Homo sapiens: one gene and its partners. The protein of the gene in region 1 purifies or fractionates together with the protein of each later gene. This does not show direct contact. Each region holds a gene or a part of one and is shown in the gene's direction. Other genes may lie near its edges. The genes, in order: TMEM45A, MYH1 and RBM6.

Evidence for each region.
Region 2: the proteins of TMEM45A (region 1) and MYH1 purify together in Homo sapiens (affinity purification with mass spectrometry; one large-scale study listed by BioGRID and IntAct). This does not show direct contact.
Region 3: the proteins of TMEM45A (region 1) and RBM6 purify together in Homo sapiens (affinity purification with mass spectrometry; one large-scale study listed by BioGRID and IntAct). This does not show direct contact.

What each region holds. Positions count from the first base shown.
Region 1 is NC_000003.12:100,565,466-100,569,121, forward strand, and holds part of TMEM45A (transmembrane protein 45A), read left to right. Parts: intron 1-3,356; coding exon 3,357-3,502; intron 3,503-3,656.
Region 2 is NC_000017.11:10,511,947-10,515,602, reverse strand, and holds part of MYH1 (myosin-1), read left to right. Parts: intron 1-707; coding exon 708-735; intron 736-1,478; coding exon 1,479-1,593; intron 1,594-1,689; coding exon 1,690-1,782; intron 1,783-1,913; coding exon 1,914-1,977; intron 1,978-2,637; coding exon 2,638-2,736; intron 2,737-2,818; coding exon 2,819-2,922; intron 2,923-3,056; coding exon 3,057-3,195; intron 3,196-3,410; coding exon 3,411-3,529; intron 3,530-3,614; coding exon 3,615-3,656. UniProt on the Homo sapiens protein: Required for normal hearing. It plays a role in cochlear amplification of auditory stimuli, likely through the positive regulation of prestin (SLC26A5) activity and outer hair cell (OHC) electromotility.
Region 3 is NC_000003.12:50,072,639-50,076,294, forward strand, and holds part of RBM6 (RNA-binding protein 6), read left to right. Parts: intron 1-2,534; coding exon of another isoform or gene 2,535-2,541; exon of another isoform or gene 2,542-2,556; intron 2,557-2,562; coding exon 2,563-2,692; intron 2,693-3,656. UniProt on the Homo sapiens protein: Specifically binds poly(G) RNA homopolymers in vitro.

The sequences.
Region 1 (3,656 bases):
GTGTTTTTTTTTCTTGTAACCTTTCATTTATTAGACGTGTAATCATGGGCAAATCACTAAATCACCCGATTTTATTATCGAGATAATAAGGATAATAATACATTAAAATGAGGGTAATAATACATCCTTGAAAAGGGCCATTGCAAGGAGACACCTAAACACTGTAACTGACACATAGCCAATACATGGTAGACATTTGTAGGATTATTCATTATATTATCCTGGTTTTGAATTTCATTTAGTTCCAGAAACCTGCAATACATTCATCCAGTTATCTATTATCTCTCTATCTACTTATTGTTTATTGGGATAAAACTTTCCTAACATAACATTAATATTTTTAAAGTGTACAATTTAGTGGCATTTAGTATATTCACAATGTTGTGCCCCCATCAGCTCTATCTGTTCCAAAACATTTTCATCACCCCGAAAGGAAACCTTGGGCCCATAAAATAGTCACTCTCCCGTCTCTCCTCCTAGCCCCCGGTACCACTGGTCTGCTTTCTGTCTCTATGAATATTTGTCTAGTCTAGATATTTTATGTAATCAGAATCATAATATATGTGAACTTTTGTGTCTGGCTTCTTTTACTTAGTATAAATGTTTTCAAGTTTCATCCATGTTGTTGCATGTACTTCATTCCTTTTATGGTCGATTGATAGTCCCTTGTATGAGTATACTGCATTTTGCTTATCCATATCAGTTTTTGAATATTTGGGTTGTTTTCATCTTTTGACTATTATTAATAGTTCTACTATGAACACTCATGTACAAGTTTTGTTTGAATACCTATTTTTAGTTCTTTTGGGTAGAAGTGAAATTGCCAGGTCATATGGAATTCTATATTTAACTTCCTGAGGAATTGCAAAACGGTTGCCACAGTAGCTGCAGAATTTTATCCCAATAAAAAATTAGATAGATAGATAAATGGATGAATGTATTTCAGGTTTCTAGAACTAAATGAAATTCAAAACCAAGATAATATCATGGATACTCCTACAAATGTCTACCATTTATTGGCTATGTGTCAGTTACAGTGCTTAGGCCTTTCCTTGCAATGGCCCTTTTTGAGGATATATTATTATCCTCATTTTCATGTATTATTATCTTCATTATCCAGATAATCAAGATTATCCATTTTACATTCCCATCAGCAATATATAAGGATTTCAATTTCTCCATATCCTCACCAATATTTGTTATTTTTATTGTTATTATTGCCAGCCTAATGAATAAAAAATGGTATCTCATTGTGGTTTTGATTTGCATTCCCCTGATGAACAATGATATCCATAATCTTTTCATGTGCTTATTGACCATTTGTATATTTGCTTTGGGGAAATGTTTCTTGAAGTCCTTTGCCCATTAAAATTTTTTGTTGTTGTTAAGTTTTAGGAATTCTTTTTATATTCTAGATATAATCTCATCGGATATATGATTTGCAAATATTTTCTCTCATGCTGTGAGTTGTCTTTTCATTTTCTTAATAGTGTCCTTTGAAGCACAAAAGTTAATTTTGATGAAGTCCAATTTATCTGTTTTCTTCTTTGGTTGATGGTGCTTTTGGTGTCGTAGCTTAAAAAAAATCAACAAATTTCAAGTGATGAAGATTTCTCCCTATTTTCTTTTAGGAATTTTGTGGTTTTAGCTCTCATATTTAGGTCTTTAATCCATTTTGAGTTCATTTTATATATATATAATTTTATACATGAGTTAATTTTATATATGAGGTAGGGGTCCAAATTCATTTTTTTTCATGTGAATACCCGGTTATCTCAGCACCATTTGTTGAAGACTGTTCTTTCCCCATTGAATGGCTTTGGCACCCTTGTCAAAAACCAATTGACCTCAGACATATGAGTTTATTTCTGGACTCTCAATTTTATTTCATTGATCTAAATGTTTATCATTATGCCAGTATCACACTGTTGTTTTGATTACTGTAGCTCTGTAGTATTGAAGTCCTCCAGCTTTCTTTTTTAAGGTTGTTTTGGTTATTCTGGATCCCTTGCAATTCCATATGAGTTACAGGATCAGCTTTTACCATTTCTGCAAAAAAAAAAAAAAAAAAAAAAAGAACATTGGAATTTTGATGGCAATTGCATTGAATCTGTAGATTGCTTTGGGTGGTATTGCCAGCTCAACAGTATTAAGCTTCCAGTCTATGACTATGAGATAGCTTTCCATTTATTTAGATCTTTGATTTCTTTCAACAATGTTATGCAGATTTTGGTGTACAAGTCTTAAACCTCCTTGATTAAATTTATTCTTAAAGTATTTTATTCTTTTTAATGCTATTGTAGATGGAACTGTCTTCTTTTTCTTTTTCTTTTTTTTGAGACGGAGACTTGCTCTGTCGCCCAGGCTGGAGAGCAGTGGCACAATCTCGGCTCACTGCAAGCTCCGCCTCCTGGGTTCACGCCATTCTCCTGCCTCAGCCTCCCGAGTAGCTGGGACTACAGGTGCCTGCCACCATGCCTGGCTAATTTTTTTGTATGTTTAGTAGAGATGGGGTTTCACCGTGTTAGCCAGGATGGTCTCGATCTCCTGACCTCATGATCCACCCACCTCGGCCTCCCAAAGTGCTGAGATTACAGGCGTGAGCCACCACGCCTGGCCAGAACTGTTTTCTTAATTTTATTTTTGAGTTCATTGCTTTTGTACAGAAATACAACTGTTTTGTATATTGATTTTGTATCCTGCTATTATGCTGAACTCATTTATTAGCCCTAATAGTTTTCTAATGGATTTTTAAAGGAATTTCTATATATAAGATCATGTCATCTGTGAATGTAGATATTTTTGCCTCTTTCTTTCCAGTATGGATGCCTTTTATTTTTCTTAACGGCTTAATTACTCTAGCTAAATCTTAACTTAATTGCTCTAGCTAAGATTTTCAGTACAACATTCAATAGAAGTGTGAAAGCAGACATCCATGTCTCGTTCCTGATATTAGGGGGAAAGATTTCAGTCTTTTACCATTAAATATAATGTTAACTGTGGGCATTTATTTATTTTAAAACCTTTTTGTACTCCAATTTTGAAATAACAGAGTGAAACTGCACAATGTAGAAACCCAAGACATTCTCTTAAAGTCCAGACATTCCTAGCAAGATGACTGTTTATATTTTGAAAACTGATCATTAAATGTCCTTTTAAAACTTTTATGAAAATATGACATATTAGAGACTCTCTATATTACTAAAACAGGCAGCAAAACCTGATGTTTTATCTGTTACATCTTAGATAATTGGAGTTAACTTAGTTATTTACCTCGGAAGCAAGTATTTTGAAATGTACCATTTTTGGGAATGTGATTGGTTATTTTAATATATGCTTTTTGTTCTAAATTACAGATTGGATTTGTCCTGTATCCCCCCAGTGGAGGTCCTGCATGGGATCTGATGGATCATGAAAATATTTTGTTTCTCACCATATGCTTTTGTTGGCATTATGCAGTAACCATTGTCATCGTTGGAATGAATTATGCTTTCATTACCTGGTAAGTTAGCGATTTCTGTTAATGGAAGTTCTGTTCCTTGGTATGTGATTATCAAGACTCAGTGGTATTGAATTTAAAATTCAAAAGGGTATTTCATTCCTTATCATCCCATAAGACAGGGTAGCATAGCAGAACATTATCTGCAAACACAAAA
Region 2 (3,656 bases), on another chromosome or scaffold:
ATAAATCATGTATTATCTGAATAGAAATGAAAAATAGGAGTTCAATCCTTTTGGTGCCTCAGTTTCTTGTTAATTATAAATTAGATTCTTTTACAAGTACTGTCATCTCTTTAAAGTTATCAGAGTACATCTCAGATATAATATCCTCTGTTTGAATGAAGATGATGTTTTGGGGCTACACACATATAAACAGAAATTGTTTTCCCCCCTTAGAAAGATTTTATTTTGATTGAGGCATCCTCTCTTACCTCATCTTTCTTTAACACAATGGTACACTTTGGGGAAGGCTGATCGAAGTTAGGGCTATATTGAAGTTAGTCTGTGGCCATAAGATAGTAAATTTTTTCTCTTTGTGAAGTCATCTGACACATTTAGAAACAAAATCTCAGTCATGGCTTGATTAACACTATTTCAATCTATTAAATAATAGTCCAAGCCTTTAGCATATTATGCATTTTTCAGCTATATGCATTAATTAGCAGATAGCATGCCATTGAAATCTACAGATGACAACTACGGAATGTATCTAGCTTTGGAGAATACTGCTCTTTATATTAAACCAGCAGGACACACCCATAACTTTACCATAATATATTGAAAAACCCCACTGAATACATGACACTTATACTCAAATGCCCTGTTTCACTATAGAAAGTTTTGTTTGTGTAACTGATACATATGCTGATTTTCCACTGTTTTTCTTCTAGATCGGGAGAATCAGTCTATCTTGATCACGTATGTATTCCTATTCTGAGATTTATTGGCAGTTTGTTCTTACTGGAAAAATGACAAACCAAAAAAAGAAATTAGTTAATGTTCTCTACTAAAGCACTGAATGATCAACCTGGAACTAGATATTGGTTTAGCTTTATTATAAGGTTTACATTGCATTAGAATGTAAAATAATAATGTTCTAAATCACCTCATTTGCTGGTCTTGAAAGTTCCACAGAACTTTTTGGTGTGTAGAAAGTGTAAAATGAGCTGGGCTGGAACCCAGTATAGTGCAATGAGCAGCATACAGCCTTCAAAAGGTACAACAGTTTGGAAATACTACTAGTGGTTCATTTTTAAGGCCCACTTAGAGAATGTCTGTTCCTTCAAAGACCAAACTTGAGCCATGTCTCTAGTCCGAGGAAATGGAAAAACACATGCACGTTTCATAGAGTTTCCTACTAATTGTTCCATTCACTACAGAGGTGCTGAGTAGCTGCTTTTCAGACCCCTCAAGCCCAGGCCTCAGCACCCAGAAAAAAAGCTGACACATTATAAACACTCAAGAAATACGTGTTAAATGAACAATGACTGATTTTTTCTACTTCTTGCCAGTGCAAAGCAAAAGAAATAATACGAGCTATATGTAGGCTGAAAAGAAAGATGTAAAAGGCTCTCTAATAGAGATATAAAGACAAAGCCATGAGGTAGTTGTAGTTTCATTTGTCACAGTGCTTAATTTCTCATACGTTTGGTCTTTGACAGCGGAGAATCTGGCGCAGGGAAGACTGTGAACACCAAGCGTGTCATCCAGTACTTTGCAACAATTGCAGTTACTGGGGAGAAGAAGAAGGAAGAAGTTACTTCTGGCAAAATGCAGGTGAGTCTGATTGTTAGTCAGAATCCAGGCTCTGTCGGGACTCTCAGGTAGGAAATTCCCAAGCCCCAGATGCAAGGACTGCTCTTGCCTTTGCAGGGGACTCTGGAAGATCAAATCATCAGTGCCAACCCCCTACTGGAGGCCTTTGGCAACGCCAAGACCGTGAGGAATGACAACTCCTCTCGCTTTGTAAGTCTCTTGGTTGCCAAAGGGTCTTCTCTGCCTTTAGATGCCAGAGAAAGCATGTCTGAATTATTTCAGTGGCATCCCCACTACGTACTTCAAGCTTTGGGTATAACATCATTTTTTTTACTTACAAGGGTAAATTCATCAGGATCCACTTCGGTACCACAGGGAAACTGGCTTCTGCTGATATTGAAACATGTGAGTAACAGGACCTCCTAAATAGAATCCAAGAATGACAAATATTGGTTTGGAGGAACACTTTGCAGCTCCTGCTGAACATGGAGCTTGTAAAGCACCAGTCTGCTGCCAAACATGCTTGTGGTTAATGTCAGTCTTATCCATAGCCCACAGTATGCTTTACCCACTCCAGTCATGAGGTAATGCTTCTGTGGGAACTGCCAGGAACTGCTGGGCATGTCCAAAGTATTCCAGCCTCAGAATGATTTCAATTTTTTTTTTAAGAAAAAACTAACACTAGAAGTAAACAAGTTGTCCAGGGATTGAGGATATGTGATTTATTCCTAGTCTGAGCTTTAATACTGTTGCTTTTAGTAGTCCCTCTATTATATGGCGACAGGACCCTGCAGAGGGAGTCTCAGGACTCAATTATATTCCAAATGTCAAGGATCTTCTGTATGAGAAGTGAATATCTTGAGCCAAGCATATTTCACTTTTTTCCCAGGAGGCAGGAGGAACTGCAATAGTGTTTGTAGAGACATAATATGTGGTACTTCACAGGAACATTCAGTTGAAATCTCAAGAGGCCAGTGAGATTTAGCTAATGATCCCAAGTCCTCAAATCACTCCAGGACATTGTGTAATTTTTCCCCATAATCTGATGTCTACTATCCGTTGCAGATCTTCTGGAGAAGTCTAGAGTTACTTTCCAGCTAAAGGCTGAAAGAAGCTATCATATTTTTTATCAGATCATGTCTAACAAGAAGCCAGATCTAATTGGTAAGAAATAAATTCATAGCTAGAAGATTGTCACTGTACTATCTTCTAATGTAAAACATATGCCCTGAATTCTGTGACCCAGAAATGCTCCTGATCACCACCAACCCATACGATTATGCCTTCGTCAGTCAAGGGGAGATCACAGTGCCCAGCATTGATGACCAAGAAGAGTTGATGGCTACAGATGTAAGTTATACATGAATTTTAATTTAAAATCCATTATGCATGGGAATGGCAATAACAGCCATCTATATGTGTGTAAAAGATACAGTATAAATTCTCTTGTGCCCTAATCTTTGTCTTCTCATCTCTCATGGTAGAGTGCCATTGAAATTCTGGGCTTTACTTCAGATGAAAGAGTGTCCATCTATAAGCTCACAGGGGCTGTGATGCATTATGGGAACATGAAATTCAAGCAAAAGCAGCGTGAGGAGCAAGCTGAGCCAGATGGCACTGAAGGTACCAAATGAATCTCCATCTGGGTTTAATGAGAGAATATAGGCAAAAATGTCCATTCCAAAATTCAAGTCTTCTTTACAGCTGAGCTCCTGATGGACATACTCAGATGTACCCACACACAGACTTTCTACAAAGTTATTTACTCAATACTATGCCCCTTTGAACTGTGGGTCCCAGAGTAAGTCATATTAGGTATCTGAATTATGTTTCTGCAGTTGCTGACAAGGCAGCCTATCTCCAAAATCTGAACTCTGCAGATCTGCTCAAAGCCCTCTGCTACCCTAGGGTCAAGGTCGGCAATGAGTATGTCACCAAAGGTCAAACTGTGCAGCAGGTAAGTGCATGACCTCAATGAATCACACACATCCCAGGCCTTCATGACATGTCTTTAATAACACCAACAAACTTTATCTGTGAAGGTGTACAATGCAGTGGGTGCTCTGGCCAAAGCTGTCTACGAT
Region 3 (3,656 bases), about 50 Mb from region 1:
TACTTTCTTACCAGGTACAGTGAACCCTGATATTTTTATTCAAGTCTAGTCTCTCTTCATTTTTATGAGTTGTTACAGTGGGACCATTTAGTGTGACATTCCATTGGGTCATTCTCTGCAATTTGAAATACAGTGGATTAGGACTAGGTGAAGGAGTCAGCCATCAGGAGGAAGGACACCTTGGCCTTGAGTCTTCTGGGACAAGGCTTAGGTGGGGTGCGGAAAGAGACCCTTCTTTATTCTCAGCACCCTTTATACCACATTCTCCTGGCTCTTCTCCTTTCCAGTCACCTTTTCTGCTCCTCTTCCTTTTCTGGATAAATCCAGGTGTTCTCTAGGACTCTTCTCTCAGTGCTTCTTTGGTCTTGCTGCTCTACCCTCTTGACCTGGGCTTTCTAAGGTACCCATGGCCTCAACCACCACCACAGTCTAACAAGTCCAAATCTCCTGTATTATTATTTCAGAGTAGCAGCATCATAGCATCACTGTCTACATGGTCTGATCCATCCTCCTCCTTTATCCCCTGTGTCCAATTAGTGACCAAATCCCTAATTAAGTCTTGCCCCCTGTCTTAGTCTGTTTTATGATACCATAACTGAATACCACAGACTGGGTAATTTATAATGAACAGAAATTTATTTGGCTCATGCTTCTGGAGGCTGGGAGGTCCAAGATTGAGGAGCTGCATCTGGTGAGGGCCTTCTTGCTGTGTCACCTCATGGTGGAAAGTAAAAGAACAAGAGAGCTTAGGCAAAAGAGGGGGTTGGGAGAAAGAAACCAGACTAATCATTTTATCAGGAGAACCCACTCCTGCAATAACAGCATTAATCCATTTGTGAGGGCAGAGCTCTCATGACCTAATCACTTCCTGAAGTTTCACCTCTCAATACTGTTGCATTGGGGATTATGTTTCCAACATATGTACTTTGAGGGACACATTTAAACCACAGCATCTCCCATTCTATTCCACCTCCACACTGGACTCCTACTCCCAGTCTTTGCTCCCACTGTTCTTCAGTCCATTCTCTACCCTGCCACCAAAATGACTTTTGTAAAGAGAAATCTACTCTTATAACTTGTCTTTTTACAAACCGTATACCTTGCCTACAGGGAGGCCTGAGCTCCAACTTTTGCCAGAAGGATGAGGTTCAGAGACATGATTTAGCTTAATAAGTTCAAGGTTTTTTACAGTCTGACCCCATGCAGCCTTTTTTTTTTTTCCTTTTGTTTTGAGACAGTCTCATTCTGTCGCCCAGGCTGGAGTGCAATGGCACGATCTTGGCTCACTGCAACCTCCGCCTCCCAGGTTCAAGCGATTCTCCTGCCTCAGCCTCCCCAGTAGCTGGGACTATGGGCTAATGTTTGTATTTTTAGTAGAGAGGGGTTTCACCTGTTGGTCAGGGTGGTCTCGAACTCCTGACCTCAGGTGATCCACCCGCCTTGGCCTCCCAAAGTGCTGGGATTACAGGCGTGAGTCACTGCACCCGGCCACCAAGCAGCCTTACCTTTGTCAGTTTCTACTACTACTCTCTTGGACAAATTGTCTTTTGTGTCTCCTTGCTTGTGTCCTCCTTTTCTCTTACACAAACTCCTTATTTCGAGATCCAATTCAGATGTATCTTCCTGTTGAAATTCCTGTCATTTTTGGTGATGCCCCTTCAGAGTTTTCGTTCCTTCTACTGCATTTCTTTTTTTTTTTTGAAACAGAGTTTCACTCTTGTTGCCCAGGCTGGAGTGCAATGGCGCGATATCAGCTAACCACAACCTCCACCTCCTGGGTTCAAGCGATTCTCCTGCCTCAGCCTCCCGAGTAGCTAGGATTACAGGCATGCGCCACCACACCCGGCTAATTTTGTATTTTTAGTAGAGACAGGGTTTCTCCATGTTGGTCAGGCTGGTCACGAACTCCCAACCTCAGGTGATCTGCCCACCTCAGCCTCCCAAAGTGATTCCTTCTACTGTATTTCTATAGCAGACATCTACTGTTGCTACATCCATGGTTGAGCTCTCTTCAATGTTCTATAAGCATCTCTTGACATAATGTTTGAGACCTTTCTTGTGAACAGGGCCATATCTTAGTAGTCTGTGTACCCAGCAACAAAACATAGCTATCAGGCACTCAGAGGTACTGTTAAATATACTTACTTAATAAGAGGCAGATATGAATCAAGAGGACAGAGATTTTATATTAGGCTTATAAGCAGGTCTTCATCAAAATGATGGTGTCAGGTTGGGCATGGTGGCTCATGCCTGTAATCCAGCACTTTGGGAGGCCAAGGCATGCGGATTACCTGAGGTCAGGAGTTTGAGAGCAGCCTGGCCAACACAGTGAAACTCTGTCTCTACTGAAAAAAAAAAAAATTAAAAATTAGCCAGGTGTGGTGGCGGGCACCTGCAATCCCAGCTAATCGGGAGGCTGAGGCAGGAGAATCGCCTGAACCCAGGAGGCAGAGGTTGCAGTAAGCTGAGTTCGAGCCATTGCACTCCAGCCTGGGCAAAAAGAGTGAAACTCCGTCTCAAAAAAAAAAAAAAAGGAAGTGATGGTGTCTGCTTCTTTTGCAGTGATCGTAAACTTGTTGATAAAGAAGATATCGACACTAGCAGCAAAGGAGGCTGTGTCCAACAGGCTACTGGCTGGAGGAAAGGGACAGGCCTGGGATATGGCCATCCTGGATTGGCTTCATCAGAGGAGGTAAAATGGTTTCCATCTTTTGGGGGGTGACATGAACCTGGAATGTAATTAACTTTCACTTTCTGGCCTAGAGTGATGTCTTTGCCATTTTGCTGGGCTTTCTCTACTGCTGGGATAGGACATGAGAGTTGAACACTTTAGCCTTGAATACTGGGTTATAGCTTGGCAGGCTGGGCCCTTTGCAGTTTGGAGTTAGGAAGAGAAGGAAGGAGTTGGAATGGATTTCATCATACTTTTACATGGAGTAAATAGTAGAGCAGTATCTGAGGCAGTTTGAGACTGAAGAATCATTTGGGCAAAAGAACCAGGGAATCAGCAATGAAAGGTACAGAGGCATCTCTGAGAGGGACTGTCAGCGGAAGTCTTTGGTGGCTAAAATTTAAGGAGCATGTTGTTCTGGTTCCCATGAAGGACTTTGCCCCTCATATTTCAAGAGCCTCTAGAAAAGGTGATAAGAGGAAACATTACCCATTTTGTGTTGGCTTGCTTCTCCTCTGAAAATGCCAACCATAAGAGATTGGCTTATTTCTCTCCTACCGAGTTTCTCATATCTCTGGTATTAAAGCCTGTATCTTGCAATCATAGCATCACCACCCACCTTAATTCATCTTGGGTATTTGTTTAATAATGAAAGATTCTTTTCTTTTTTTTTTTTTGAGACAGAGTCTTGCTCTGTCGCCCAGGCTGGAATGCAGTGGTGCGATCTCAGCTCACTGCAACCTCCTCCTCCCAGGTTCAAGCAATTCTCCCACCCCAACCTCCTGAGTAGCTGGGATTACAGGTGCATACCACCATACCCAGCTAATTTTTGTGTTTTTAGTAGAGACAGAGTTTTGCCATGTTGGCCAGGCTGGTCTCGAACTCCTGGCCTCAAGTGATCCGCCCACCTCAGCCTCCCAAAGTGTTGGGATTACAGGCGTGAGCCACTGTGCCCGGCCAAAAGATTCTTTAAAAAAATTATCCT